4 linked regions of the Homo sapiens genome follow. The protein of the gene in region 3 interacts with the protein of the main gene of each other region in a pairwise test. Each region holds a gene or a part of one and is shown on either strand. Other genes may lie near its edges. The genes, in order: SLC18A1, RHBDL2, SLC35B4 and CREB3L1.

What was found.
Region 1: the proteins of SLC35B4 (region 3) and SLC18A1 interact in binary tests that used the Homo sapiens proteins (3 or more experiments, as listed by UniProt).
Region 2: the proteins of SLC35B4 (region 3) and RHBDL2 interact in binary tests that used the Homo sapiens proteins (3 or more experiments, as listed by UniProt).
Region 4: the proteins of SLC35B4 (region 3) and CREB3L1 interact in binary tests that used the Homo sapiens proteins (3 or more experiments, as listed by UniProt).

Annotation. Positions count from the first base shown.
Region 1 is NC_000008.11:20,180,124-20,188,049, reverse strand, and holds the start of SLC18A1 (chromaffin granule amine transporter), read left to right. Parts: upstream 1-4,913; 5' UTR 4,914-4,987; intron 4,988-6,097; exon of another isoform or gene 6,098-6,301; intron 6,302-6,962; 5' UTR 6,963-7,085; coding exon 7,086-7,209; intron 7,210-7,926.
Region 2 is NC_000001.11:38,931,826-38,938,851, forward strand, and holds part of RHBDL2 (rhomboid-related protein 2), read right to left. Parts: intron 1-7,026. UniProt on the Homo sapiens protein: Involved in regulated intramembrane proteolysis and the subsequent release of functional polypeptides from their membrane anchors. Known substrate: EFNB3.
Region 3 is NC_000007.14:134,292,931-134,299,956, forward strand, and holds part of SLC35B4 (nucleotide sugar transporter SLC35B4), read right to left. Parts: intron 6,669-7,026; coding exon 6,593-6,668; intron 3,537-6,592; coding exon 3,461-3,536; coding exon of another isoform or gene 3,382-3,460; exon of another isoform or gene 2,150-3,381; coding exon 1,903-2,149; 3' UTR 1-1,902. UniProt on the Homo sapiens protein: Antiporter that transports nucleotide sugars across the endoplasmic reticulum (ER) membrane in exchange for another nucleotide sugar.
Region 4 is NC_000011.10:46,315,637-46,321,910, reverse strand, and holds the end of CREB3L1 (cyclic AMP-responsive element-binding protein 3-like protein 1), read right to left. Parts: exon of another isoform or gene 5,626-6,274; coding exon 5,526-5,625; intron 4,551-5,525; coding exon 4,424-4,550; intron 1,648-4,423; coding exon 1,383-1,647; intron 1,202-1,382; coding exon 1,165-1,201; coding exon of another isoform or gene 1,014-1,164; 3' UTR 502-1,013; downstream 1-501.

The sequences.
Region 1 (7,926 bases), on a different chromosome or scaffold from region 3:
CATAACCTATGTGCATCCTCTTGTATACTTTAAGTCATCTCTGGATTACTCTTAATACCTGATACAAGGTAAATGCTATAGAAGTAGTTATCGTACTTTATTTGTTTTTTACTTGTGTTATTTTTTATGGTTGCATTGGTTTTTTTTTGTTTGTTTGTTGGTTGGTTGATTGGATTTTTGTTGTTGTTGTTGTTTTGAGACATGGGTCTCACTCTGTCACCCAGGAGTGCAGTGGCGCGATCATGGCTCACTGTAGCCTCGACCTCCTGGGCTCAAGCAGTCCTCCTGCTTTGGCCTCCCAAAGCACTGGGATTATAGATGTCAGCCACCACACCCAGCCTGTATTGTTATTTTTTATTGTTTTATTTTCCAAATATTTTTGATGTTGTGAAGGGATGCCAGTTTTGGTGGTTGGTTGGGGGTAGGGCCTGAATTTTCCTAACTGAATTTTCCTATCACTTATTTGTTGCTGAGTTTGCTACCGCTGTCCCTACAATAGAACTGTTCAATGGGGTTCCAGCTGATGTTGATTTTACTTTTTTAGAGCCTCCTATTCCCTTGGATCTGAAACCAGCACTTCCCTTGCATGTTTACAGACACGCAGTTCCCTATCTTTATGGACACATATCCACTCCTACAGGGTCCACAGTGCCCTGTAGATCATGGCCGTAAAGTATCAGCCCTGATTCCTCTTTGGCTTTGTTTTCAGAAGCCTGTGACTTCTGAACCAAAGTCAGCCTCCAATCTGAGGCTGGGATAATGACATATGCTGAATGGAAGAAGTTGGAACTGATTGTTAAAATGTTTGAACAGCACAGGAAACAGGAAGCAATGAGAAACAAAAGCACCCTCCAGCTCTGAGTCACAGGGCCGTCTCCTCTGCCAGGCCATGTCAGCCACAGCCCAGGGTACATGTAATTGGGTAATAGATATTATTTGGCCCGGAGAAAAAGCTGTCCGTCTGAGGATGTTGTATGCCAACCACTTTAACTAGAAAGATAACAGAGCCACTATCAAAGAGCCTCAAACTTCAATTTCAGTCTCAGAGAGTTCTCAACAGGATGCTCTGGCTAGAAATTATTAGTTCTTTGCAAGGGCTCGGAGTCCACTAGTATAGACTGAGCTGTTACTTTTTACTGGCAATGCTTCATTTTTAAGTTTTGTTCACTATTATTTAAATAATAAATCAAGAATCTTCCACAACTTTGCCATTGGGCCTAACCACTTACATAATCACAATGTACATAAAGTGTTGTTTTTATGTTTTTAATTGTGGCAAAATATACATGACATAAAATTTACCATTTTAACCATTTTTAAGTGTATGGTTCAGTCGTGTTAACTATACCCACCTTATTGTGCAACTGACCAATCTCCAGAAGTTTTCATCTTGCAAAACTGAAACTCTACACCTATTAAACAATCACTTCCCATTTCCCTCTTCCCTCAGACCCTGGAAACCACCATCATATTTTCTATTTCTATGAAATTGACTGTTATACTTACATCATATAAATGGAATTACATAGTATTTGTCCTGTGGTGACTGGCTTATTTCACTTAGCATAATGTCCTCAAGATTCATCCGTGTTATAGCATGGGTCATAATTTCCTTTATTCATCCATTGAGGGACATGTAGGTTGCTTTCACCTTTTAGCTATTGTGCATAATGCTACCGTGAATTTACATAAAGGTTTTTTTGTTGGTTTTTTTTTGAGACAGAGTCTCACTCTATCGCATAGGCTGGAGTGCAGTGGAGCGATCTTGGCTTACTGCAACGTCTGCCTCCGTGTTCAAGTGATTCTTGTGCCTCAGCCCCTCAAGTAGTTGGGACTACAGGTGTGCAGCACCACGCCTGGCTAACTTTTGTATTTTTAGTAGAGACAAGATTTTGTCATGTTGGCCAGGCGGGTCTTGAACTCCTGACCTCAAGTAATCCACCTGCCTCAGCCTCCCAAAGTGGTGGGATTACAGGCATGAGCCACCACGCCCAGCCCCAATTTACAAAAAGTTTTATATTCTACCTTTTTACTTTCTGTCATAATATCTGTGTGTATATACATATAATATAAATTAAATATATTATGTATAACATATTATAGAATATAAATTACATGTTGTATATGTAATCTATAAATATAAATTACATGTTATATACGTAATCTATAAATATAAATTACAGGTTATATATGTAATCTATAAATATAAATTATATATTTATTTTTATATATACAGTTTTTTCCAGTTTGATATATAGTCTTCATCATAACCTTTTTTTACATCTGTTTTAAGGGCCACATGACAGTCCTTCAAGCTCATGCACTTAAATAATTTCTACAGTTGGACATTTGAGATGTTTGTAGTTTTTCTCTAAATCCTATGACAAAAATTTTGTACCTATGATTTCCCTCCCTTCCCCCATATTTTAGCATACCTTTTTAGATAGATTCCAAGGAAGTGAAATTACTGGGTCAAAAGCAACATACATTTTATAACTTAAAAGATAAAAGATAGAAAGCCGCATTGCTTTCTAAAAGAATGGTATTTCCCTAGCTACTAACAGTGTATGTGAATTTCCATTCCACAGTACTCACAGTTTTTTTTTTTATTCTATGATTAAAGGGAGGAAGTTGAGTGCTCATTCATTTTTAATGGACAACAATTTGATTATTAATAGTGATGGGCATTTGTGAGGAGACCCCAGACTTGGCCAGCCTGTGAATACTAGCATGGTTACAGTAAACTGAAAAAATATATCTATTTGATCTAATATGTATTATCCCTATAATATATGAGTATGTATTAGAAACATGCCCAAATAGTACGTAATCCATAAATGATAGCTACTGTTATTGTTGCTGTTATTCTTATTATTGCCCAACATGTGATGATTCTTAGTCTATACCTGCTTTCCCAGGCCCTCAATTTCCCAAAATCATGATTTCCCAATTTTTGGGGGGCATCCCCAGTTAGGTGCTGTCTCGGAACATTCCTGTGAGGCTGCTCTACCCAAGCCCTCTCCCTCTAGCGCCCTCTATTGGACACAGGTACACTATGCCGGAGGCTGTCAACCCTCAGAGTTCTAACACTGTACTTAGGGTGGAGGGCATGGTGGCAGAATTGTCACCTGGACTCCAAAAAGGATACTGCCTTATGCCCAGAGTCTTGCAAATATCTTTATTAATACAGTTCCTCCATCTTTTGGCCCTAACCCCCTCATTCCCTAGAGGCTCAGGCCACAGGCCCTGCATGTAAGTGGGGGGCAGTGTGCCATGCTCCCTGTAGGGAGTGGACAGTGGCACCCCAGAGATGTCCACCTCCTAATCCTGGAACCTGTGAGTATGTTGCCTTGGTAGTCCCCTATGGTAAAAGGGACTTTGCAGATATGATTAAGGATCTTGAGATGGGGAGGTGATCTTGGAATATCTGGGTGGGCCCAGGGTCATCCCGTGAGTCCTTACAAGTGAAAGAGGGAGGCAGAAGGCTCAGAGTCAGAGGGAGAGTTGAATATGCATTGCTGCTAGCTTTGAGGGTAAAAGTGGCTAGGAGCCAAGAAATGCAGGAGATCTCTGGAAGCTGGAAAAGGCAAGGAAACAACCATCCCCCAGAATCTCCAGAAGGAATGCAGCCCTGCCGACACATTCATTTTAACCCGGTGTGATGTATTTTGGACTTCTGACCTCCAGAACTGCAAGATACTAAATACGTGTTGTTTTAAGCCACCAGATTGTAGTAATTTGTTACAGCAGCAAACTATAGCGATGAATACATTCTGCTGATGTCTTTGTTTCCTATCCCTATTTCTCGCTCTAGGTTTACATTTTAAAACTGTTTCCATCTAGGCCGCGCGCTGTGGCTCGCGTCTGTAATTCCAGCACTTTGAGAGGCCAAGGCAGGAGGATCACTTGAGGTCAGGACTTCGAGACCAGCCTGGCCAACATGGTGAAACCCTGTCTCTACTGAAAATACAAAAATTAGCTGAGCATGGTGGCATGCACCTGTAATCCCAGCTACTCAGGAGGTTGAGATTAGAGGATTGCTTGAACCCAGGTGGTGGAGGTTGCAGTGAGCCAAGATCATGCCACTGCACTCTAGCCTGGGTGACATAGCGAGACTCTGTCTCAAAAATAAAAAAAATAAAATTAAAAAACTATTTTCTTTTTTTTTAGCGTTAAATCGAAAGTTCCCTAGTTAATTCCCACAATTAGGAGGGGCCCACCAGTTCCACAAATAGGAAATCTCTGCACTGCTCTTGCTCGTAAAGTGTATTTGCTTTTTCATAAATTGCTTATGTTCTTTGAGCCACCAATGGTTTAATGTCAGAATAATATAGATCATTAGAGCCTCTCAAGATCCCACAAGGAACTGCACTTTCTCCTGTAGTTAACCATCCAGTCATCCATGCAAGAAATATTTATTGGATGCTACCATGTATCAGGCACTGAGCCAGTATTGAGATGTGAAGACACAGTGCATAATCTAAGCCTTTACAGAGGCCACAGATGTTGGGTTTTTATGGCTTGAGAACAACATACATTGTTTCTTTCCAGGAAGCTAATTGGGGTACATGGAGCCACTTTGACTAAGTAGCAAGGAACAGGAACTGCACACTGGTTCCATCTTGGCTTCCAATTTGTATTCAGACCCAGGCAAGAGTTAAAGAGTTCGATGATAGATAAGCACAGATGCAAAACAGTACAGTCCAGTGCCTCTTTGCTTAGGCTAATATCTGCCCTCTCTTTATCCTCTCCAGCCCTGCCTTCCTGCCTTTGACGCAGGGAGCTAAGGGTCTGAATGAACCCTGTTGGAGGTTGCAATTAAATCTTTGTGGACAAAGGCACACACACACACACATACACAGAATCCTCAGATAACAGGAGGCAATAAATCCAACAGCACATCCACGTTCAGAGAACAGTGTCCCTGCTGTCTTGCTAACAGCTGCCAATACCTCACTGAGTGCCTCACACCAACATGGGCTCCAAGGTAAGATTTTTCTCTCTCCGGACAAATTTAATCTTTCCTTGTGATTTGTGTCTCTGTCAGAGGATTTTGACTGTTAAGTAAAGTTTACTATTGATTTGTTGGCAAATTCCTGGTTTTGTTTGTTTTTGTTTTGGGATTTGGGTGTGTGTGTTTCTCTCTCTTTGTAGTACTTACTTCACTCACTATGTTTTTTAATTTTCCATGGCTTGTCTTTTATTCTTATCCATACATATCCTAAGTCAATTTGTATTCAGAAATACCTCCTTTATATAGAGAAATGAAGGATCTTAAGTAATTGCATGCATTTACTGGTTAAAACTTAACTGAGAATTTGGTTCACTTAGGACCTTGGTCACGTTAATATGTAGTAGTGAGAGGGTTCTTCCAGCCCTGGGCTTAGAACAGAGTACCTCAGTGTTTGGGGTACTCCCAACACCTGAGGCTGACTATTGAATTTCAGTGATAATCATTTAAAATTATTTACTTCTTTAATTACAAAAGTAGCTCATTATTGAATATTTAGAAATACACAGAAGATAACTGAAGTCATTGATTATAAATAACTGGCATTTGAGTATCTCTCTACTCTCTCAAAAATGTGCCCATATATTTATATTTAGACAATTGAGATAAAGTTGAAAACACAGTTTAATTTCCCTTTTTTACTTAACGTTATAGTAATAGTATTTTCTGTATCATTAAAATTATTTGAAAATATAATTTTTAAGAGCCGCTTAATAATCCACCATTAACATGTTTGACTTTTTTCACTAAGAAAAATAATTCTGCAATTGATCATTTTGAGTATAAGTCTTTGGCTGCATCTCTGACCTTTTTTCTTTTGTAGGATGGGTTCCTTGTAGTAGAGTTACTAAGTCAAAGAGTATACAATTTTTAGGGCCTGATAGATTTCATGATGGTAATCTATTTTAAAATTTAAATGAGTGATATTGTTGATACCACAACAGAAGCCACGTCAAAGAAAATGAAATTCTCCCCAGAAACTCTTATTACTTGAAGTTTGACAAGGTACTGTGACTTAATGCTGACTAATGATATGAAATCCTGAATAGAGAACTAATCATGAAAGTCAATATTTTATTTTCACAGATGAAGGCATCTTTCTGATCAGGGGTTTGTAGCTCAAACAAAAGAATGAGCGTGCTTCTAGAACCACAGAGCAAGGGAACATGGTAGAGGATAAGCTGGCAAGTTGAAAAGCGTGGGATTTCATCCCAGTTTGACACTAACTGTGCAACCCCAAACAAATCTCCTAACCTTCAGAGGCTCGGATTTCTTGTCTATGAGATGAAGGTTGGTCTACATCAGTGTTTCTCAGTGGGCAGCCCAAGTGACACTGTGCCACATGAAATATTTTGGGGTAGCACCTAGAACAAAGGTCATACTTTTTTTGCATGCCACATAAAATAACTTTTTGAAACATGATATCAATATCTATGTTGGTTTTAAAAATTTTTTGAGAGTTAGGGGTCTTGCTATGTAGTCCAGGCTGGACTCAAACTCCTGGGCTCAAGATATCCTCCCACCTCAGCCTCCCAAGTAACTGAGACTCCAGGCACATCCCACCATACCTGGCAGTATCTCAATATTTTAAAAGAGTGGATCTAGAGGAAAAAGATGAAGTAAATGATAGTACAGGTAGTCCTTAGATATGACATAAACCATCAAGGTGATAGGCAAATAAATGTCGGATGTTTGAAAAACACAGGGTTAAGTGATCTGTAGAGCATCTATTTTTATCTGGATTTATACCTAGCCATTAAATTCAAGGGAAATTAATGGCTAGATATAAATCCAGACATAAATAGCTAGTAAGCGATGCTTACCAGGAAGGCATTCTGGGAACCAGGTAGAGTTATTGAGATTTATAAGAAGTGAACAGTGATACAGACATGGAGATGTTTCCAAATATCATCCTACTACTTGCAACCCTTTGCACTTTTCGTTTTAATAGTGAGTTTCCTTCGTCTGGGCAGACTCCCTCCCCTCTTCCATAAAGGCTGCAGGAGACCTGTAGCTGTCACAGGACCTTCCCTAAGAGCCCGCAGGGGAAGACTGCCCCAGTCCGGCCATCACCATGCTCCGGACCATTCTGGATGCTCCCCAGCGGTTGCTGAAGGAGGGGAGAGCGTCCCGGCAGCTGGTGCTGGTGGTGGTATTCGTCGCTTTGCTCCTGGACAACATGCTGTTTACTGTGGTGGGTACGTTTGTGGGTCTTTGTGCTGAGGGTTAATTTGCTGTGGGCCCCAGCAGGCAGTGTACACCCTGCTTGAGTTCAACAGTGAATCCATCTGAGAATTTTCCTTTTTATGCTCAAAAACACACAGAGGTTGTTGGGGACTGGAAAAAAGCCCTGCAGAAAATGGAGTCTGACACTTGTCAAACACAGCTAAAAGACTCAGGAGGTTCAAAGAGCAGGAGGTCCAGAGAGGGTCTGACTGGAGAAGAGGATGGCCCGGAGCCAGAACTGGCTGTGCTTTTCTTTCTCCCCACACTGTCTTCTCAAGGTGCTAATGACTCCAAGTGCCTCTGAGGCAGCGAGATCTTCTCACAGGGGTGCCTTTCTGGACTCTGCTCTATAAAAACAGCATATTTTATTTGGATATCTGATTTAGTATCAAGACCTTGCCTTCCTTGTGGTTCTTTCCCTCAGAATCCTGCTTTTTTTAGTTGATACTCTCCTAATCATTACATTAAGTTACACCCTTGTATAAATGGGCACTAAAAGGTTTCTCCTCTTGGGTAAAACATATGTTTTTAAAAAAGGATCTTTCTGAGACAAGTTGTTAATCCAATACAATCACTTCTCATTATTCATAGTTCTGTAGTTATAGTTATGCTCTATAAAGTCGCTGCAAACACTGAATTAGTGAATACTGAATCATTGCTCCCAGGGAAACACACACACACACACACAC
Region 2 (7,026 bases), on a different chromosome or scaffold from region 3:
AGCACCATCAGCATGGTTAGGGCTATTCAGTTCCCAGAAGCCAAGGATGGTAGACTAAAGACGGAGCATATAATTTGCCATTCCTCTCACTGAGAGATATGGTTTGGGTTTGTTTCTCCTCTCCTTAAGTCTGGGCCAGCCCTGTGACTGGTTTTGACCAATACTACGTGGCAGAAGCTATGCTGGATACTTTGCAGGGCCGGGCCTTAACAGCTATGTGGTCCCCACTTTTGCTCCTTTGGGAATGCTTCCTCTTTGAAGCCTAACACCATATAACCTAACACTACCTGGAGGCCACCATTCTATGAGAAAGCCCAAGGTGCCCACATGGAAAGAGAGGCCATGTAGAAGAGCACAAAAGTAGGAGTCTCTCTGAGCCTGGTCTGGCTCAGGAGGTTGCCTGATTTAAAAAAAAAAAAAGAAAAAGTCATGTGAAAATGAAATAAAGAAAAGCACCAAGGTGCCAGACCTATGAATGGAACCTTCTTGACCTACCAGCCCAGCTCATCCACCAGTTGAATACAGCTGTGAATGACCCTAGCTGATGACTACATGGAGAAGAACTGCTCAGCTGAACCCTGCCCAAATCCCTGACTTGCATAATTATGAAGAAATAAAATGGCTCTTGGTTTTTCTGTTATTTGTTTGTTTTGAGACAAGGTCTGACTCTGTCGCCCAGGCTGGAGTGCAGTGGTACGAACTCAGCTCACTGTAAGCTCCACCTCCCCAGTTCAAGGGACTCTTGTGCCTCAGCCTCCCAAGTAGCTGGGACTACAGGTGAGCGCCACCATGCCCAACTAATTTTCGCATTTTTTGTAGAGATGGGGTTTTGCCATGTTGCCGAAGCTGGTCTTGAACTCCTGAGCTCACGCGATCCACCCACCTTGGCCTCCTGAAGTGCTGGAATTACAGGCGTGAGCCACCACACCTATTCTTGTTTTGAGTCACTAAATTTTGGGGTGATCTGTTACACAGTAATAGCTACCAGCATGCCTCATCAGAACCAGAAGACAGAATGACATCTCACACCATTCTGCCTTTCTTTCCATTCACATTGTTCATCTTTGTATTCTTCCATTGAGTAGATTACTGATGTCTGACCCGAAATTACCCTCCCAAATTAGTCTTCACTCTGTTTCCACTCCTGCCTCCCTCCAACAATGAAGCAAAACAAAACCGTAAATCAGAGTGTATTAACTCTCGGCTTAAAAATCCTTCAATGGTTTCCCATTGTCTTTGGGATAGATATAGGATCCTAATGGCAAATGATAAGATCCTATATGACCTAGCTCCTACCTTCTTTGTGGAATTCACTTTCTACTACTTTCTCCCAACGACTCAGTGCTGCAGCCACAGGGACGTCTTTCTGTTCCTGGAATACACCAAATCTTCTCCTGTCTCAAGGTCTTTGTACTTGCTGTTCCTTCTACCTAGCCCTCTCCCTTCCCTACAACTCATACACACAAGGTTGGTCTTGATCCTTCATAACCTGTAGCACGTCCCTAGGAAGTCTCCCCTGCCCATGCCTTCCCGCACCCCTATATGCTCTACTACATTTCCCCACTTATATTCTCCCAGCACTTATCATTATCTAAAAATAGTTAGTTTATTTATTGTCTGTCTCTTTCTGCTAGAATATGACCTCCACAAAAGTGGAAAATATTTCTCAGCAAGTATTTGCTGAATTAACAATCCCATGAATGGAGAAGGAAGGAAAAGGGAAGTATCATGGAAAGAGCTCTGACATTGCAGGAGTCAGAAAATCCTGGTCCTTGCTCCAATTCTGCCCCTGCTTACCTACGGATAAGCTACTTCCCCTCACCTAACCAGAAACTTCATCCCCACCAGCAAACACATGGCCGGCGATGTTTATCAGTGTCATACCTCACAGGTCTTCACAATTTTTTTTTTTTTTTTTTTTGAGACAGAGTCTCGCTCTGTTGCCCAGGCTGGAGTGCAGTGGTACAATCTTGGCTCACTGCAACATCTGCCTTCTAGGTTCAAGCAATTCTCCTGCCTTAGCCTCCCAAGTAGCTGGGATTACAAGTGCCCACCACTATGCCCAGCTAATTTTTGTATTTTTAGTAGAGATGGGCTTTCACTTGTAGGCTGGGCTGGTCTCAAAATCCTGACCTCAAATGATCCACCCCCTTTGGCCTCCCAAAGAGCTGGGATTACAGGAGTTATCCACCGTGCTGTGTCCACAAGTCTTCATAAATCCCCATAAAAATTTTGAAGAATGTCAGGTGTGGTGGCTGACGCATATAATCCCAGCACTTTGGGAAACTGAGGTGGGTGGATCATTTGAGGCCAGGAGTTCAAGACCAGCCTGCCAATATGGCAAAACCCCATCTCTATGAAAAATGCAAAAAATTAGCCAGGCGTTATGGCGGGTGCCTGTAATCCCAGCTACTCAGGGGGCTGAGGCAAGAGAATCGCTTGAACTTAAGAGGCAGAGGTTGCAGTGAGTCGAGATTGTGCCACTGCACTCCAGCCTGGATGACAGAGCAAGACTGTCTCAAAAATAAATAAATAAATAAAAATAAAATGGCCCGGCAGGGTGGCTCACACTTGTAATCCCAGCACTTTGGGAGGACGAAGCCAGAAGATCGTGAGGTCAGGAGTTCGAGACCAGCCTGGCCAACATAGTGAAACCCCGTCTCTACTAAAAATACAAAAAAATTAGCCAGGAGGGGTGATGGGCACCTGTAATCCCAGCTACTCGGAGGTGGAGGTAGGAGAATCGCTTGAACCCGGGAGGTGGAGGTTGCAGTGAGCAATGCAGAGATCGCGCCACTGCATTCCAGCCTGAGTGACAGAGCAAGACTGTCTCAAAAAAAAAAAAAAAATGGCTGGGCGCGGTGGCTCACACTTATAATCCCAGCATTTTGGGGGGCCGAGGCGGGCAGATCACGAGGTCAAGAGTTTGAGACCAGCCTGGCCAACACAGTCAAACCCCGTCTCTACTAAAAATACAAAAAAATTAGCTGGGTGTGGTGGCAGGCACCTGTAATCCCAGCTATTTGAGAGACTGAGGCAGGAGAATCACTTGAACCCAGGAGACAGAAGTTGCAGTGAGCTGAGATCATGCCACTGCACTCCAGCCTGGGTGACAAAGCTAGGCTCAGTCGCAAAAAAAAAAAAAATTTTTTTAAAGAAGCTCTGTTCTGTCTCATACATTTTTAAGTTAATAACTACAATTATTTTTTACAAGTTAAAATCGGCTCCAAGATCAAATTTTTTGTCATAGTCTTTGTTAGAGACATGTTTTAAATACATTTTCATCCAAACCTTAGAGCTACAGATTTCACTTGTTCAGTTTATGGAAAATGTCTACCACATAATCCAGTTGGCAAAGCCTGTCCTCACTGTCAAACCAATTAGCCAAATCAAAGAGATTTTCTGTCCATAAGAAAATCTACCTTTATTTTTAAAAGGTTCCATAAATGCATTAATTTGCATCCCCATGACAACTGGCTCATGTCTCAATTCTAATTTTATAACACATAAATAAAGAGCTAAAGCTCTTAAGTTTAATATAGCATAATGGCTAAAACACAAATTCTAGAGGAATTCAAAGGTGTCTGAATTCAAATTCTGATTTCACCACTTGACACCTCTGTGACCTTGGGCAACTTATTAAACCTCTTTGTGCCTTGGGAGCATCATCTGTAAAAGGAGGGTGGTAAATATCTACTTTATAGATTCGGTATCAGTATTGAATTAGTTTATTATCTGTAAAATTCTTAGAAGAGTGTCTGGCACATAATTAGCATTGAGCAAATTTTTCGTTTTGTTTTGTTTTGAGACAGGGTCTCACTCTGTTACCCAGGCTGGAGTATAGTGGCATGATCTCAGCTCACTGCAACCTCTGCCTCCCGGGTTCAAGCTATCCTTCCACCTTAGCCTCCCAAGTAGCTGGGACTACAGGTGTGTACCACCACACCTGGCTAACTTTTGTATTTTTTTGTAGAGACAGGGTTTAGCCATGTCGCCCATGCTGGTCTCGAACTCCTGAGCTCAAGCGATCTGCCCACCTTGGCCCCCTGAAGTATTGAGATGACAGGTATGAGCCACCACACCCGGCCCTATTTGGGTGTTTTTTGAGACAGGGTCTTGCTTTGTTGCCCAGGCTGGAGTGCAGTGATGCAAACCCAACTCACTGAAGCCTCGACCTCTTGGGCTCAAGATATCCTCCCACCTCAGCCTCCCAAATAGCTAGGACCACAGGCACATGCCACCACGCCCAGCAAATCTTGTAGAGACGAGGTCTTGTCACATTACCCAGGCTGGATTCAAACTCCTGGGCTCAAGTGATCCTCTCACTTCGACCTTCCTAAGTGCTGGGATTGGAGGAATGAGCCACTGTGCCCAGCCTAAACAAATATTTTTATTTCTTTATTTTTATTTTATGTTTTATTTTCTGGCTTTACTTAATCAGCTTCCTCAGGTTGAATAAACAAGTATTCTTTTTTGTTTGTTGGTTTTTGGGGGTTTTTTTGAGATGGAGTCTCACTCTGTTGCCCAGGCTGGAATGCAGTGGCATGACCTTGGCTCACTCCAACCTCTGTCTCCCAGGTTCAAGCAATTCTCCTGCCTCAGCCTCCTGAGTAGCTGGGATTACAGCAGGCACATGCAACCATACCCATCTAATTTTTGGTTTTTTGCTTTTTGGGTTTTTTTTTTTTTTTCAAGATGGAGTTTTGCTCTTGTCACCCAGTTGGAGTGCAATGGCGCGATCTCAGCTCACTGCAACCTCCGCCTCCTAGGTTCAAGCAATTCTCCTGCCTCAGCCTCCCGAATAGCCGGGATTACAGATGCTGGCCACCACCCCCAGCTAATTTTTGCATTTTTAGTAGAGATGGGGTTTCACCATGTTGGCCAGGCTGGTCTGGAACTCCTGACCTCAGGTGATCCACCCACCTCAGCCTCCCAAAGTGCTGGGATTACAAGTGTGAGCCACCGTGCCCAGCAATTTTTGTATTTTTAGTAGAGACGAGGTTTCACCATGTTGGCCAGGCTGGTCTTGAACTCCTGACCTCAAGTCATCCACCCAACTCGGCCTCCCAAAGTGCTGGGATTACAGGTGTGAGCCACCATGCCTGGCCGAGTATTCTCGAGTGTTCTTTTTTTTTTTTTTGAGACAGAGTCTCACCCTGTCACCCAGGCTGGAGTGCAGTGGCACAGTCTCGGCTCACTGCATGCTCCGCCTCCCGGGTTCACACCATTCTCCTGCCTCAGCCTCCCAAGTAGCTGAGACTACAGGCACCCGCCACCACACCCAGCTAATTTTTTGTATTTTTAGTAGAGACAGGGTTTCACCATATTAGCCAGGATGTCTCAATCTCCTGACCTTGTGATCCACCCGCCTCGGCCTCTCAAAGTGCTGGGATTACAGGCGTGAGCCACCGCGCCTGGCCCCTGGCCGAGTATTCTTAAATAAAACAAATACTACGAGTCTGTAGTAGAGGCACAGCACCCTTTAGTTTCTCCTGCCTAATCTCTCTTTACTTGCTATCTCTCAGGAACACAGCATTCTCTAACTGTCCTTTTGAACAATGGACCTTGTTCAATGAATTTGGGATGGACAGAGGTGTAACTTTCTTATAAAGCCAAAGAAGAGAAACAATGAAAACAGAGTTGAAAAGGAGAACTTAAAAGAATCCAGACAAGCAGATGACTTTTAGGCAAGAGTCCCTGCAGAAGCTGAGAATCTGGAAATGGACTCTTTTAATGTTATCTGTGCCCCCGCATCCCCAGTTCCAGGACCACTGGCTAGTTTGACACACCCTCACTGGGCACACTCAGAGCTAGATATAATTCCTGGAAACCCTTCTACACCTCCATCTCTAGCTCTCTGGCATAAGAAAGCACAAGGTATTGCAAGTAGTATCCTTGAACTTATTCCAGATTATACAAAAGGAAACTATTTATAAATTTCCAAACTTTTATTAGGAGGAACAGATTCACTGTGACCCAGTATACAGCTGAGGGCAAAGTACCAGTCATCAGGAACAGGCCAACTCAAGAGATCCTTCATGAACAAACCATGCTGAAGTCTTAAAAAGGAAGACTAATTTTCATAGATAGGTGGGGACCCATCAGGCCTGAAAACCTTGGCGTCTTCATATCCTAGGCCCCTACACATCAGCCTCACTTCTGAAATGCAAATCAGGTAGTGTCATTCTCATTGCTAATTTTTTTTTTTTTGAGACAGTGTCTCACTCTGTTGCCCAGGCTGGAGTGCAGCGGCACAATCTTGACTCACTACAACCTCTGCCTCCTGGGTTCAAGCGATTCTCCTCCCTCAACCTCCAGAGTGGCTGGGACTACAGGTGCACGCCACCATGCCCAGCTAATTTTTTTTTTTTAGTAGAGGTGGGGTTTCACCATATTGGTCAGGCTGGTCTCGAACTCCTGACCTTGTGATCCGCCCGCCTCGGCCTCCCAAAGTGCTGGGATTAGAGGCGTGAGCCACCGCGCCCAGCCAAAATCTTTTCAATGGGTATCCAATGTCTTTGGTTTAAAGCCTAGATTCCTTAACGAGGCACAGAAAGACCTCATGACCTGAACCCTGCCTATTTATCCACCTTCATTTCTTTCCATTTCCCCAAATATACCCTATGCCCCAGCCACACTGAGCCCCTAGCAGTTCCAGCTCCCACTCTCCATGAGGTCTTTTCATGAGCTCCTCCCTCTGCTAGAACATCCTCCCACACTCCCCATTTGTTGTCCCAGGGAAGTATTAACACCCCCTTTAAGACTCTGTTCCTTACTATCACATTTGGGATTAAGTTAAAGAAAAGAAAAGAAAATTTTTTAATTAAAGAAAAACAAAACTAAAAGACTCTGTCCTTTACAACTCCTCTGCAAAGCCTTACTGAGCATCTACCACATGCTTAGCATTGTGTTAGGCACCGAGGATGCATGGTAGAATTAAATGCCCTTCTTAGTTCCATCAGCAACCTCTGTTTGCATCTAGAGCATCAATGTCTTCTTTGTATTATAACTGTCTCCTCTACAAGG
Region 3 (7,026 bases):
ATTTTAAGTAACAAAAACCCGAGGCAGCTTAAATGACTTCTCCAAGCGACCTGGTGACTCTAGGACATTTATCTCCACTGCTGTTGCTCAAATCCATCAGAGAATAGCTCTGGACAGTGGAATAAACATACCACACCATGGAATGAGCCCAGGAGACCTGCAGAGCCACGTCTCAGTTTAAGAACACAATGTGTGCACCACACACACACACATACATACACACACACACACACAGTCTTTGTCTATAGGCAAACAGAGAAGTGGCCGGTGAGTTCAGCTGCTTACAGAGGAGCATGTACTGGTATGTAAGGTTCCAGCTAAGTAAAGAAAAGGGATGTGAAAGTGCAGCCACTTCCGTGCCCTTTGATCACACACAGACTACACAAGAGCACACAGAAGCTACGCATATTACAGCAACAGCGTTCCTCCTATTCAAGATTGTCCAGTGAAAGGAAAACTGGACCTCTGAAATGATTAGCAAAGAGAGGCATGTTTCCACACACAATAAAGCACATCCAACCATCCTCAATACCCATCGAGAATGCTAAGATACCTCATAGGACAATAACAACTTTCAATTGTCGTTGAGGTTTGACCTGATTTACACATCACACACTATATATCTCCATCTATGCATTCCCTTGATGGGTCGTGACTCTTAACAGAGTCATCGGGCAGAGGGGAATCTCCTGGTGGTGAAGCCTTATCCTCCCACTTGAGACCCACCCTTCTGCCCTGTGAGTGCCCGGCTGGGCCAACAGGGACAGCCATGGCTCTTGCGGTGCTGAGCAGGGCCATCCTGCCGTCACCACTGTGGCCTAGGCAATGGGCTTCAGGGGTGTCCAGTCCATAACAACCTTTCTTTTTTTTTTTTTTTTTTGAGATAGAGTCTCACTCTGTCACCCAGGCGGGAGTGCAGTAGCACGACCTCAGCTCACTGCAACCTTCATCTCCCGGGTTCAAGTGATTCTCCTGCCTCAGCCTCCCAAGTAGCTGGGATTACAGGCATGCGCCATCACACCCAGCTAATTTTCGTATTTTTAGTAGAGATGGGGTTTCACCATGTTGGCCAGATTGGTCTTGAACTCCTGACCTCAAGTGATACACCCACCTCAGCCTCCCAAAGGGCTGGGATTACAGGTGTGAGCCACCGTGCCCGGCACAACCTTTCTTTGTTATGAACACTGTGTCTGCTGTGAGATATGCTGCAGGGCCGCCCTAATCACAGAAAGCAATGGATAGAAGCATCTGACTTTTGCATAGAAAAAAAAAAAAGCAAAATGTGGGAAAGAGGAGTCCCACTAGTCTTGCTGCACTGTCACTGGGAATCAGCTCAGGGGAACATCTCTTTCCTTCCCAAAACGCTGGAGGAAGTCCAGCCCTGCTGTTACTGGTGTCTCGGTTTACTTGGCCACTCCTGGTGATAGTGGTGCCTGCAGCGTCTGACTGACTGTGAGGTGCTGCTGAAGAAGGAAAAGGTGATGGGAGACAAAAGGGATAAGGTCACAGGATGACAATGACTGCTGTAGCAGAGATGCATTACAACAGCAAGAGAAGGGACAATCTTTTCCAAGACCATGGATAGTAAGCCTTTTGTTCAGGAGACTCAGAATTCAGAAAACAAGAATAATACTGAATATGTCGGTAAACAAAACAGAAATAAATGAATGGGCTGTTCAATAGTCCAGAACTGTTCTTTTTTCTATTTTAGGGCTGAGGGGTTTCTATTTAGTCTACATGTGTCAGTCTGAGCAACGTGAGAAGTCCCCTCCTGAAGATTTCCTTTTGCACGGCTGGCTCAGCACTGCGGGTAGCTCGGCATTAACAAAAGCGAAACGGTGGTCAGACCTTCACAGGGTCCCACCCTCACGACGACACTGGTCTACGTACTCCAGACAGGCCTCAGTTCTTCTTGCTGTCCTTCTGAGGCTCACTTTTTGTGGTCCCTAGGTTGTTCCACACCTCTGTGTACATTAAGGTCCCAATGAAGACAAACAAGGTGCCCAGCCAGTGCCACAGGGTGAAGGGGTTCTGGAAGTACAAGATGGAAAAGATGAGGCTCACAAATTTGCGTAGGGTCACGACGAGCGTGACGGTGAGGGAGGCGCATTCTGTGGTGAGGATAAACACACCCCGGATGCACACGTACCTGGAGGAGTGGAGTCAAGGTAGTTTTCTGTAGACTGTACTTGGGGGATCAGTGAGAGAACCTTCTGGCATGGTCCCTGGTTTAACTTCTCATATTCTAAGAAAACATGAAGGTCCGCTACGGCAGCTCTGAGGCTCCTCCTGGGGAGAACCTGCAGAACAACTCCTGTCCTGCCATTCCATTTATGGGTACCAATTTGAAACCGCCAAAAAACCCCCAATTATTCTTATGTTGGAGTCTTCCTATGGTTACAATGACAGGCACCTCCAAGATAATGACAGAGGGTGACGCTCTCGGTAAGGGTGATCCCATTCACCTTTATTTATCTTGCCTCCAGCCCTTCTATCCCCTCCTCCAGAAAGGGACTCTGGCAAATCTAGGAGCTGACTTCAGAGGAATGAGGTCAATCTCGATTCGTTTCACTATTTCAAAGACATAATTATTTTTATAATGAAAGTAAGGTCATTCGAAATAACCATTTTAAAAAACGAAAACTTGATTACTTTGAAATTTCTTTTTTTTTTTGAGACAGGGTCTTGTTCTGTTACTCAAGCTAGAGTGCAGTGGAGTGATCAAGCTCACTGCAGCCTCGATCTCCTGGGCTTGAGCGATCCTCCCACCTCAGCCTCCTAAGTAGCTGGTAATTTGAAATTTCTTTCAGGACTTTGCAGCAGCTTGTGATCACTGGAAATATCTTAGGACACCAAAAAATCACAGGTACAAATCACAGATGATTTATGCTATACAGTAGTTCTTTGTTTGTTTTTTGAGATGGAGTCTCACTCTGTTGTCCAGGCTGGAGTGCAATGGCATGATCTCAGCTCACTGCAACCTCCACCTCTTGGGTTCAAGCGATTCTCCTGCCTCAGCCTATGGAGTAGCTGGGATTATAGGCACCCATCATCATGCCTGGCTTACTTTTGTATTTTTGTAGAGAGGGGGTTTCACCATGTTGGCCAGGCTGGTCTCAAACTCCTGACCTCAAGTGATCTGCCCGCCTCGGCCTCCTAAAGTGCTGGGATTACAGGCGTGAGCCACCACACCCGCCACTATCAATCAATGGACTCCTACACTTCCACTCAGAGCACTTCCTCCTGCTGCCCTGTGCCTTACTGACCTACTACACCACTAGCATCTCTTCTGCCCTCTACAAGGAGTTCCCTGAATTGGTCTCTGTCTCCAGCTTACCGCAGAATAAATCCAGCGAAAATCATATTCAAGTCAACACACTGTTAGAAGAAAAGAATGACCATTCCTGTGCCAAAAGAACCTGATGATGACATAAGGGTGACGGCACAGTCCAAAGGATACTGAGTGATGATGTTCATGAGGAGGTAGAACCACATGATGGGCAGGGTCACTCCGATGACGGGAATTTCATATAACTCTGTAGAGGTTACAAGAGGATATAGCCATATTGCTTTTTCACAGCTGAATTTTTCATCTTTTGAACAGGGTAATACAGACTGAACATAATAGGAACAGCAACATTGTCTTCCTTGCAAATAGAATTGGATCACGCATCACTTTACTTGCCTTGACTCCAGGCTATAGCAGCCACTAAAGTCATTAAATTGGTTTCTTAAAACAAATAATAGTTTTAATTTTTAAGGAAGTGTTTTACCATTTGCCTGAATAGTACCTCACTTTACAAAGAAAGACTGTGAAGCACAGAAAAGTTGAAAATGATAAAATGATATAGACAGCCTTAACAACTCAACACAAGAGGAAAGGCGGCTAGCAACTACTGTTTGGAAGTATGTTCAATCACACTAGTAATTACAGAATTCCAAAGTAAATAAGACTGTACCATTTTATAGCTACAAAATTAGCAATTCAAAACTTATTAATTTATTTTTGAGACAGAGTCTCACTCTGTCATCCAGGCTGGAGTGCAGTGGCATGATCTCAGCTTACTGCAACCTCTGCCTCCCAGGTTCAAGTGGTTCTTGTGCCTCAGCCTCCCAAGTAGCTGGGACTACAGGCACACACCACCACACCTGGCTCATTTTTGTATTTTTAGTAGAGACGGGGTTTCGCCATGTTGGCCAGGCTGGTCTTGAACTCCTGACTTCAAGTGATTCGCCTGCCTTGGCCTCCCAAAATGCTGGGACTACAGGCTTGAGCCACTGCGCCTAGCCAATTCAAAATGTATAAATAATATCTTAATCTGGCAAGTTGGTAATGGAACTGGCAGCCACAGGTTGGTGGCAGTATAACTTGGCGTCATTCTTTAAAAAAATCAATTTCATAATCCTTATTAAGGGTCTATAAAAGTATTCCTACCCATCCTTCAGAATTAATCCTAGTTTAATTCAAAGGAAGAAAAAGGTTCTGCACTCATTAAAGTACTATACATAATAAAGAATAACTCTGAATCAAAATCAAATGCCCAATGATGGTGCAATGGCTACATAAACAAAGGCACTTTCATTAGAGGAGGCATTGTACATTTGATAAAAACAAAAATCATAGAGATTTTATAGCCACATAAAAAAAACTCAGAAAAAAAGTAAAAAACAAATATAAAATTATATCCACACAAGGATTACAGCTATGTAAGAATCTCTGTAAACAGACATGGTCTAGAAGAAAATCAATAAAAATAAAATTGGCAGATGTCCAGGTTGATGGAACTGTGAATAACTTTAAATATATTCTTACATTAGTTTTAGGCCAGGAGTAGTGGCTCACGCCTGTAATCCTAGCACTTTGGGAGGCCAAGGCAGGAGGATCCCTTGGGCCCAGGAGCTCGAGACCAATCTACCATTCTGGGCAACAGGGAGGTCCTGTCTCTATTAAAAGACACATACACACACACACTCTCACTCTTATGTTAGCTTTATATAATGACACTTGCACAGTAAATTTGTGGGAGGAAATAAGATGAAAGAGAATACAGACATAGAAATCCTCAATGGCTCAGTTTTTTTGTATTACTAAATTTTTTTCAGGTTTTGAATTATACAGCATAATTTAAGAAATTCTGATACAATGATGCTGAGATCTGGTAAGAAATATTAATTTTCTTTCACGAATAAAATGTCTCATATATACATACACACGCATACACATAAAGACTAATTTTTGAAACTTAGTTCTGGATCAGTGGGCAATGCCAATAATCTGGTATTCTATTATCTTTGATATCCTTAGCAAGTATTGAAATGAAAAGGAAGTTAACAAACGTGATTACTTTTTAATAACTTCAGAGATACACTGAATCTCTGAAGGAAAGAGACAATGAATATCACTTAAAATATTTTGACAGATATTTAGCTCTCTTGGAAAATTCACGGATCTCAGAAACTTAATCTCAAGGAAAGCAAGAGAAGGAAAATGTATCTTTAACTTGGAAATGATTCTGGAGAAGTTGAAGGCAGATTCTGTAAAACATTTTATCATAAATACCTAGCCCTGTGATTTTTAGAAGCAGCATTCTAACAACTAAATCAATCACATGGAATTTGACAACATTTTTATTTCAATAGCCCTTTGCTACGTGGGACTTCTCAGAGATCTTAAAAACTGTTGTGTTAATATGAAGAAATGATTATTTGAGTAATTCAGAGCCTTACAAACTCTTACACACTACCTTCACATTTTTTGGGGGATGGGGCAAATGGGAGAGGCAACACTATAAATGCAGAGAATAGTCATAACTTCACAACTCATGCTCAGATAGCAAACAAATGTTTACTGAGCACCTACTGTCATTCTACAAAATGCACTTAAGCATTTGAGGTGTGTGCAACATAAAGCCTTGATTTTAAAAACGTTTATTTGTTCCTTGTGTGTTCAATGTGTCTATATTATACTCTGTTAGTAGATAATCAGATCATACAAGTGATCCCTTTCAAGTTAACTGACAATCTATAGCTAATTTATTAACTGGCCAGTTTAAAAAGTAACAGCTAACTTACACTAGACGCTTGAAACTAATTTTGCTTATTCATCTGCTGCCTGTCTCATCTGTAACTAGGAGAAAAACCTTGTCATCATTGAGCTCCCCTCTTGCTCTGCTCCATGGCAGCTTGGGCTGGATCTGTGAGCAGCTCTGCCTTTCATGGCAGAGAAGGATAAACAGCAGTTGAGAGAGCTGGACGGCTGCCCAACTTCGCAGGGCTCCAGTCTCTGCAGTGTGCTGTAAGTATTCATTTGCATTCTCAAAACATCAAACATTTCACATTCAAATGCAAACACACAAATTCCAAAGCAAAATGGAAAACTCGAAGATATTCTTTTACTTCATTTGTAAATAATTGAGAAACCCCTGTAAAAGCTTTTGCTGCTGCAATGACTGGAAAGTGGAATGGAGACATTTTCGAAAGGAACACATGATTTGAATAGGATTATGAAAAAGGCCGAGGTCAAGTCAAGAGTAAAACTGAGACTCTGCCTCAGAAACTGTCAGGTAATTCTACTGTCTAACCCCAAACTCACCAGACTTATTGAATAGAACTGCATGGTCATAAATATCAGAAGCCAAGAAGACGAAACCCGGAAGTGGAAGGGCGTGCTATGGAAAGAAACAGGTCAGATAAATGTAAGTGCAAAAACATTATAGAATAATTAGAGTAGCTTTACAATGATTAAAAGTCGTACAGGTTGTTTGACAGCAATACAAAGAAAAGCAAGTTAGACTTAAGTTAAATGTATACAGTGCTTCTTGACCACTTCACCTTGTATGGCAGGATATTAACCCCCAAATTATGGTTCTTGCCCTTATAGGGTCTGAGGGCCATCACAGACAAAGCAAACAATGGAGCCAGCATCCTTTCCTCAACAACAGGGAATGGAGAAATTTAAACATATAGTCTTTCTGCACAAAAGGATTTGCTAAATATGCAGACACAATTTAATTTGCTTTGATTGAT
Region 4 (6,274 bases), on a different chromosome or scaffold from region 3:
TGCACCACTGGACTCCAACTTGGGCAATAGAGCGAGATCTTGTCATTCATTCATGTACACATACATACATACATGGGGTTCTCCTTAAATAGGCAGATAAAAAACATTTATCTAAACTATCTTCCTAATCCTCAAATAAAAGCATACACATATAAAAGCTATAAATAAAGCCCAAAGACAGAAGAGGAAATAACAAATCAGTCAACAAAATATTGGAAAATAAAAAGTGAACAGGCTGGGCATGGTGGCTCACGCCTGTAATCCCAGCACTGTGGGAGGCCATGGTGGGCAGACTGAGCCCAGGAGTCTGAGACCAGCCTGGGCAACATAGCGAGACCCTACCTCTACAAAAAAAAAAAAATGCCTTCTCATACTCCTATACCCCCACACCCCCTGCCAGAACATAAAATCAACCTACCCTTGTTGTTCCCCTGCCCTTTGGTTCTACTTTCCCTCCCCTCCAATGAAGAAAGGCACAAAGTCAGGAGTTGATGCTGCATCTTTTTTTTTTTTTTTTTGGTTTTGCTTTCTTAAAGCATGTGCTGAGCTGATGAAGAGAGCAGTTTGGCAATTAAAAAGGCCCAGCGGCTTGGGCAGCAGCAGGGGGGTGCCAGGTGAGGGTCAGGTAGTCCCTCTTTCCTGGGCCAGGGAGCAGCAAAGCCCGCACTAACTTCATAAAATATAAAACAAGGGAGGGGCGAAGGGAAGAGGGAGATTTGTAAAATACAATATCTTAGGGGATTGGCAATAATAAAAAATAAGGTTCATTATTTACAAACAATTTCTGTTCTTGGTCTCTGTACAGTGGGGGTGGGGTAAGGGGTGTCTGTGAGTGGGGTGCGTTGATGTGTCTGTTTGGGTGCAGGTGTGGGGGCAGGGAGGCAGTGGTCGTGTTGGGCATATGAGAGAGGAGGTGGGGTACCCAGTGAGTGGTTTGTCTGAGAAGGACGGATGGATGTTGGTGGGAAGGAGAATGAGAACAGAGTGGTCGGCCCAAGGGAAGAGTCCAAATGTCAGGGGCAAGGAAGGGCTGGGAAGTGGAGCCTTTTCTCCTGGAATGGGAAGCTCCAGGAGGCAGGGGCACGAGGCGGATCCGGGTTAGTGAGCAAGAACTCCTCTTCTGGGTACCAGGGGTCCGTCCTATGTCCTGGGTCTTGGCATGGCCTAGGAGAGTTTGATGGTGGTGTTGGGGCCCAGATCCCTGGAGAGAGAAGAGAGGCCAGCGATGACTGTCCAGCAGGAACCCTCTTACCCTCTGCAAGCTGGATCTAGACCAAGTAGGGATGGGGCCTTGGGAGGGTGTGGCCAATGTGGGGACCAAGGGTGGGCAGGAGGCAGGTGGAGCCTGAGACCTCAGGAGGGAAAGGGGCCACACACCCCACCTGTCGTGGAACCACTCCTTGGAGTGGGAGAAGTCGGGGCTGGTGCCGTTTCCACCGTCTTTAGGCCAGGCCTCACTCAGGTACTTGGTGGTCTCGTGGGTGCTGTCCAGGTGATCATGCTGCAGGTGGTCCCGGGGCCGCTGCTCTGCCGGCCCCCCGGGGTTGATTTCCCAGCCATCTGGGGGCTCCATGGGCAGCAGGGTGCTGCGGCCATCTTCCCATAAGCCTGCCCCGTCATCGTAGAATAGGAGGCTTCGGGAGGGCACTGGAGAGGGAGTGTAGGATGAGCGGTGTGCCCAAGATTCCCTCAACATCCTGGCCACATTCATGGCCTAGTGGTTAAGGACGCAGGCCCTGGATCTGAGTCCCAGCTCTGACACTTCCCGGATGTGTGACCTCAGGTAAGCCACACACTTTGCTTTAAACTTTCTGAGCCTCAGTGTGCTCTTCTGTAAAATAGGGATACTAGGACCAACCTCATGTAAATGAGAGGTTTAAATGAGGTAATACAGGGGAAGTGATTGAAACTGTGTTCAGGAAATACTCAGAAAAGTCACCTCTTCCTAGCAGAGGGTACTGAGTTTGGGCATCTGGGAGCTGTGTTCTAACCTCCACCACTTACTTGCTCTATCTCCCTTTTTTTTTTTTTTGAGACAGAGTCTTGCTCTGTCGCCCAGGCTGGAGTGCAATGGCAGGATCTTGACTCCCTGCAATCTCCGCCTCCCGAGCTCAAGCGACTCTCCTGCCTCAGCCTCCCGAGTAGCTGGGACTACAGGTGTGTGCCACCATACCTGGCTACTTTTTGTATTTTTAGTAGAGACGGGGTTTCACCATGTTGGCCAGGCTGATCTTGAACTCCTGGGCCTCAAGTGATCCTCCCACCTTGGCCTCCCAAAGTGCTGAGATTACCGGAGTGAGTTACCGCACCCGGCCAGTCCACCACTTACTTTCTGTGAGACCTGGAATAAGTCTCTTCCCCATTCTAGATCCTAATTTGCCCTTCAGAGAAGGAAAACAAACATTTGTTGGACACCCATCATTTGTTAGGCATTATCCAAGGCCCATAGACCTAAGTAGAGTGGTTAAAATCTTAGAGAAACTCTAGGGAATGAGGTTTCTTTAGCCCCGCTTCCCAGAGGAGGCAGCTGAAGTTCCAGGCACTCAGGGAAATTGTCCTCCCTGAAGGGAGGATGCGAACCCAGGTCTGCCTGGCCCTGGGATCTGCTGCCCCTCCGGCTCTGCAGCCATGACCTCATAGTCTGTGTGAACAGAGGTCCCTGGAACTGCGCAGTGCGCCAGCTCTGCAAACCAGCCTGCTCCAAAGCCATCTGCCTGCTGGGATGTGTCTTCCTCTCCACCCAGCCCAGGTCCTGGGCCTAAAACCCACTGCCTTCCCTCCAAGGGGCTCATTCATTGCCTCCTCTCACTGTGGCTTTATCCATCAACCCCAGCTCTCTTTCCACTCCTTTTTCTCCAGTGGCTTCTGTGGCCTTGGAAAAGCAGACACATGGCTCTCCAGACCTTGCATTGCTGCTGCCCACCCGCCTTTAGTGACCACCCCGTTCTCTCCTCCTCAGCCTGCACGTGTCCGGGGAGGAGCTTTCACTCTCCCTGTCTCTACTTCCTCTTTCCCTAACCCTCCCCACACCAGCTTCCTCCCCTCAAGGCCCTCAACGTCTAGCTCATCCTCCCTGCTATATCCCTCCTTCTTGAAACTCACTCCTTAATCTTCCCTCCTCTGACCTCCCATCTGTTTCCTCTTCCTCCTCCTGTCCTGCCAGACACGTGGTTCTTGGTAAGTGACTGACTGGTAAGTGATGAGGGACAGCCAGGAAGTTCCTCTGTGGGTCCACCTGAAGGATTCTCTGCGTCTGAAATCCACACTCTTCTTTGCTGGGCCCTACCCTGGTTCTCCCTTTGCCAGCTACTGTGATGTAGCTATTCTCTCCTCCGTGAGCTCTAAGAGACTGAGTGTGCTCATTTCATAAGCACAGACACTGTGCTATTTCATGCACTGTCTCACAGCCATGGCTCAGTAAGTGCAAAATTGCCACTCCCATTTTCTAGATGAAGAAATGAAAGCTTAAGACACATGCCCCTGGTCACACAGCAGGTGGCAGTGCCAGTTACGATGGACTTGACATCCCCATGCTCCTAACCACTGTACGTTTACTATCCCCCTTGGAAACAGTAGATATCTGAACCCACACCACCGCTACCCTTCTTCTGTCCATGGTAGACATTATCAGTGGATCATGACACTCCTTCCTGTCAATTCTGAATGGTGCCTCAGGATCCTTCTTTTTTTTTTGAGATGGAGTCTCACTCTGTCACCCAGGCTGGACTGCAGTGGCGTGATCTTGGTTCACTGCAACTTCTGCCTCCCAGTTTCAAGTGATTCTCCTGTCTCACCCCTCTCAAGTAGCCGGGACTACAGGCACATGCCACCATGCCCAGATAAGTTTTGTATTTTTAGTAGAGACGAGGTTTCACCATGCTGGCCAGGCTGGCGTCGAACTCCTGACCTCAGGTGATCCACCGCCTCGGCCTCCCAAAGTGCTGGGATTACAGGCATGAGCCACCGCGCCCGGCCCAGGGTCCTTCTTAACTCAGTGTTTCAGGCAGCTACCACCACCTTATTGGAAATGGCTTTTGAGCTGAAACTCACTTGCTGTCCCTATCATGAGATACTGATGGTGCCTAGCAGATGCCCCATAAGCACTGGCACCATAATGCATGGGGCCCAGGGCTGGAACATTCCTGTTATCCCCTAAACCCACCTCCTGCAAGCCACTCCTGAGCTCTCTGGGAGCTAGGCTGGGCATCGGGAGCTCTGTATTTTAGTCCCAATTCTACCACAAACACTGAGCAAAGCATAGACTCTCTTTGGGCCTCGGTTTCCCCATCTGGAAAATGAGGCAAAATGAGATAATGCTGACCCCACACTTGGCTTCTCTCTTATGTCTGGCTTCTGCCTGGACACTGGGGCTGGGGCAGGGCAGCCTCAGCCCAGGGAGCTGGCATGACAGGCGGGCACTCACTCTGGCTGGCCGTGTAGACGCCGTCTGCGGCCAGGGGGTCTTCCTTCACAGTCTGGGAGCCGGAGGAGAACTCGGGAAGGCAGGGCACGAGGGAGCCCAGCACCAGAACAAAGCACAAGGCTGCCACCTGGTAGCAAAGAGAGAGTGGCATCAGATCTGGGGTAAGGAGGGGCCACGGCCCTGACCACCCCACTCCTCCTCTCCCAAACCAACAGGCACAAAAGTCTTAGCGTTTTCCCAAGGAAGCAGCTGCTCCAGTCGACCACTCCCTCCTACATGTGGGGTCTCCTATCCTCTCTGGGGAAGGCAGGGACAGCCCAGGCCATCCCAGCCCATTGTAGGGGGGTCGCCACAGGCAGTGCTAGAAGTAAGAGGGAAGTGGCCAATGTGGAGTCCCCTTACGGGGTAGAGGAATCAGGAAAGGAAGGAATAGGTGCAGGTGGGGCTTGGGGCTGGGACGAGGGAGGGGGACACACCGCCACATCACGTTCTCAGCAGGATTCTGAGGAGCCTGGCTAGCGGGAGGTGCTGAGAGCCACGGAGCCCACACTACCCCTGCCCATAGCCTGGTTCTGCTGCCTGACAGCTCGAGGGTCTCGGAGGGCCGGGGCATGCTGAGCCAGGCGGCAAGAGACTGGCCATTTCCAGAAGAAGATAGAAGAGGGACTGGAAGAGGTCTGAAACACGCCCTGGGAGCCTTCCGGGTTTCCAGGGGTTTCCTCAGCCTTTTCACTGCCATCTGTTCCAGAAAGAACCATGTCCGTTCTTCCCTGAGTCTCCCCAAGCCCTTCCCTGCACAAGGCCTGTGGAAGCCGCCTCCTCAAGGAACCTGCCCAGCTGTCCCCTAGCTGGGGCCACTGGAGTCACCTACACATCTACACTGTGTTAACCAGTCGGGGACCGGTGTGAGGCAGAAGGCACCATGGGCTTGGAGAAGGAGTCTGGAGTCTGCTAGAACCAGCCCACCAGGCGCCAGGATGGTGTACCCTGGGACGCTGCCCACGATGTTACCGATCCTTAAAGCTCTGCCCAACCCTGGAAAAAGCCAGCCTTGGGAAGAACTCTCCTCCTGTGGGTCTGTGGTGGAGGGAGCCACACCTACCATGAGGCAGGTCCCAGTCTGGGTGGCGGCCATCTTGTAAGGTCTGGAGATCTTGTTGGTGACCAGAGTCTGGAGTTTCTGCAGCTGCTGGAGCAGGGTCCTGAGGAGGGCACAGCAGTCAGCTGGCAGGCTTTGACCCCGCAGGCATCTCTGCCTCCTGGAGCTCTCCTAGGGGGCTGGCTCCAGACTTGGCCTCCACGCCAGGTGCCCGTTTCAGTCAAGATAGGAAAGGTCACCTCCTGCGTGGCTCCTCTGCAGAGTGGCCTGGCGCCTGGGGCCTGCCTCATGGTGACTGGCTGGGTCACCTTGTGGAAGCTCAGGCCTGCCCTGTGATGCTCCTGGCCAAGGGGGTTGGAGGAGGGAAGGCCTGCCCCCAGCTGCACAGATGCCAGCCTTCTTTTGCTTAACCGACACCTGCCACAGTTTCACTGACCTTCCCTCCCTGGCACCCCCAGCACCCTGAGCTGATAAGAAGGAGCTGTTTGGCACAGTGCCTGGTATGTAGTGAGTGTCTAGTAAATGGTAGCTATTGTTTTTGTTAGGTTTTTTGTTTTGTTTTGTTTTGAGACAGAGTCTCGCTCTTTCACCCAGGCTGGAGTGCAGTGGTGCGTTTGCGACTCACTGCAACCTCCGCCTCCGAGGTTCAAGTGATTCTCCTGCCTTAGCCTCCTGACTAGCTGAGACTACAGGCGTGCGCCACCATGCCGGCTAATTTTTGTATTTTTAGTAGAGACGGGGTTTTGCCAGGC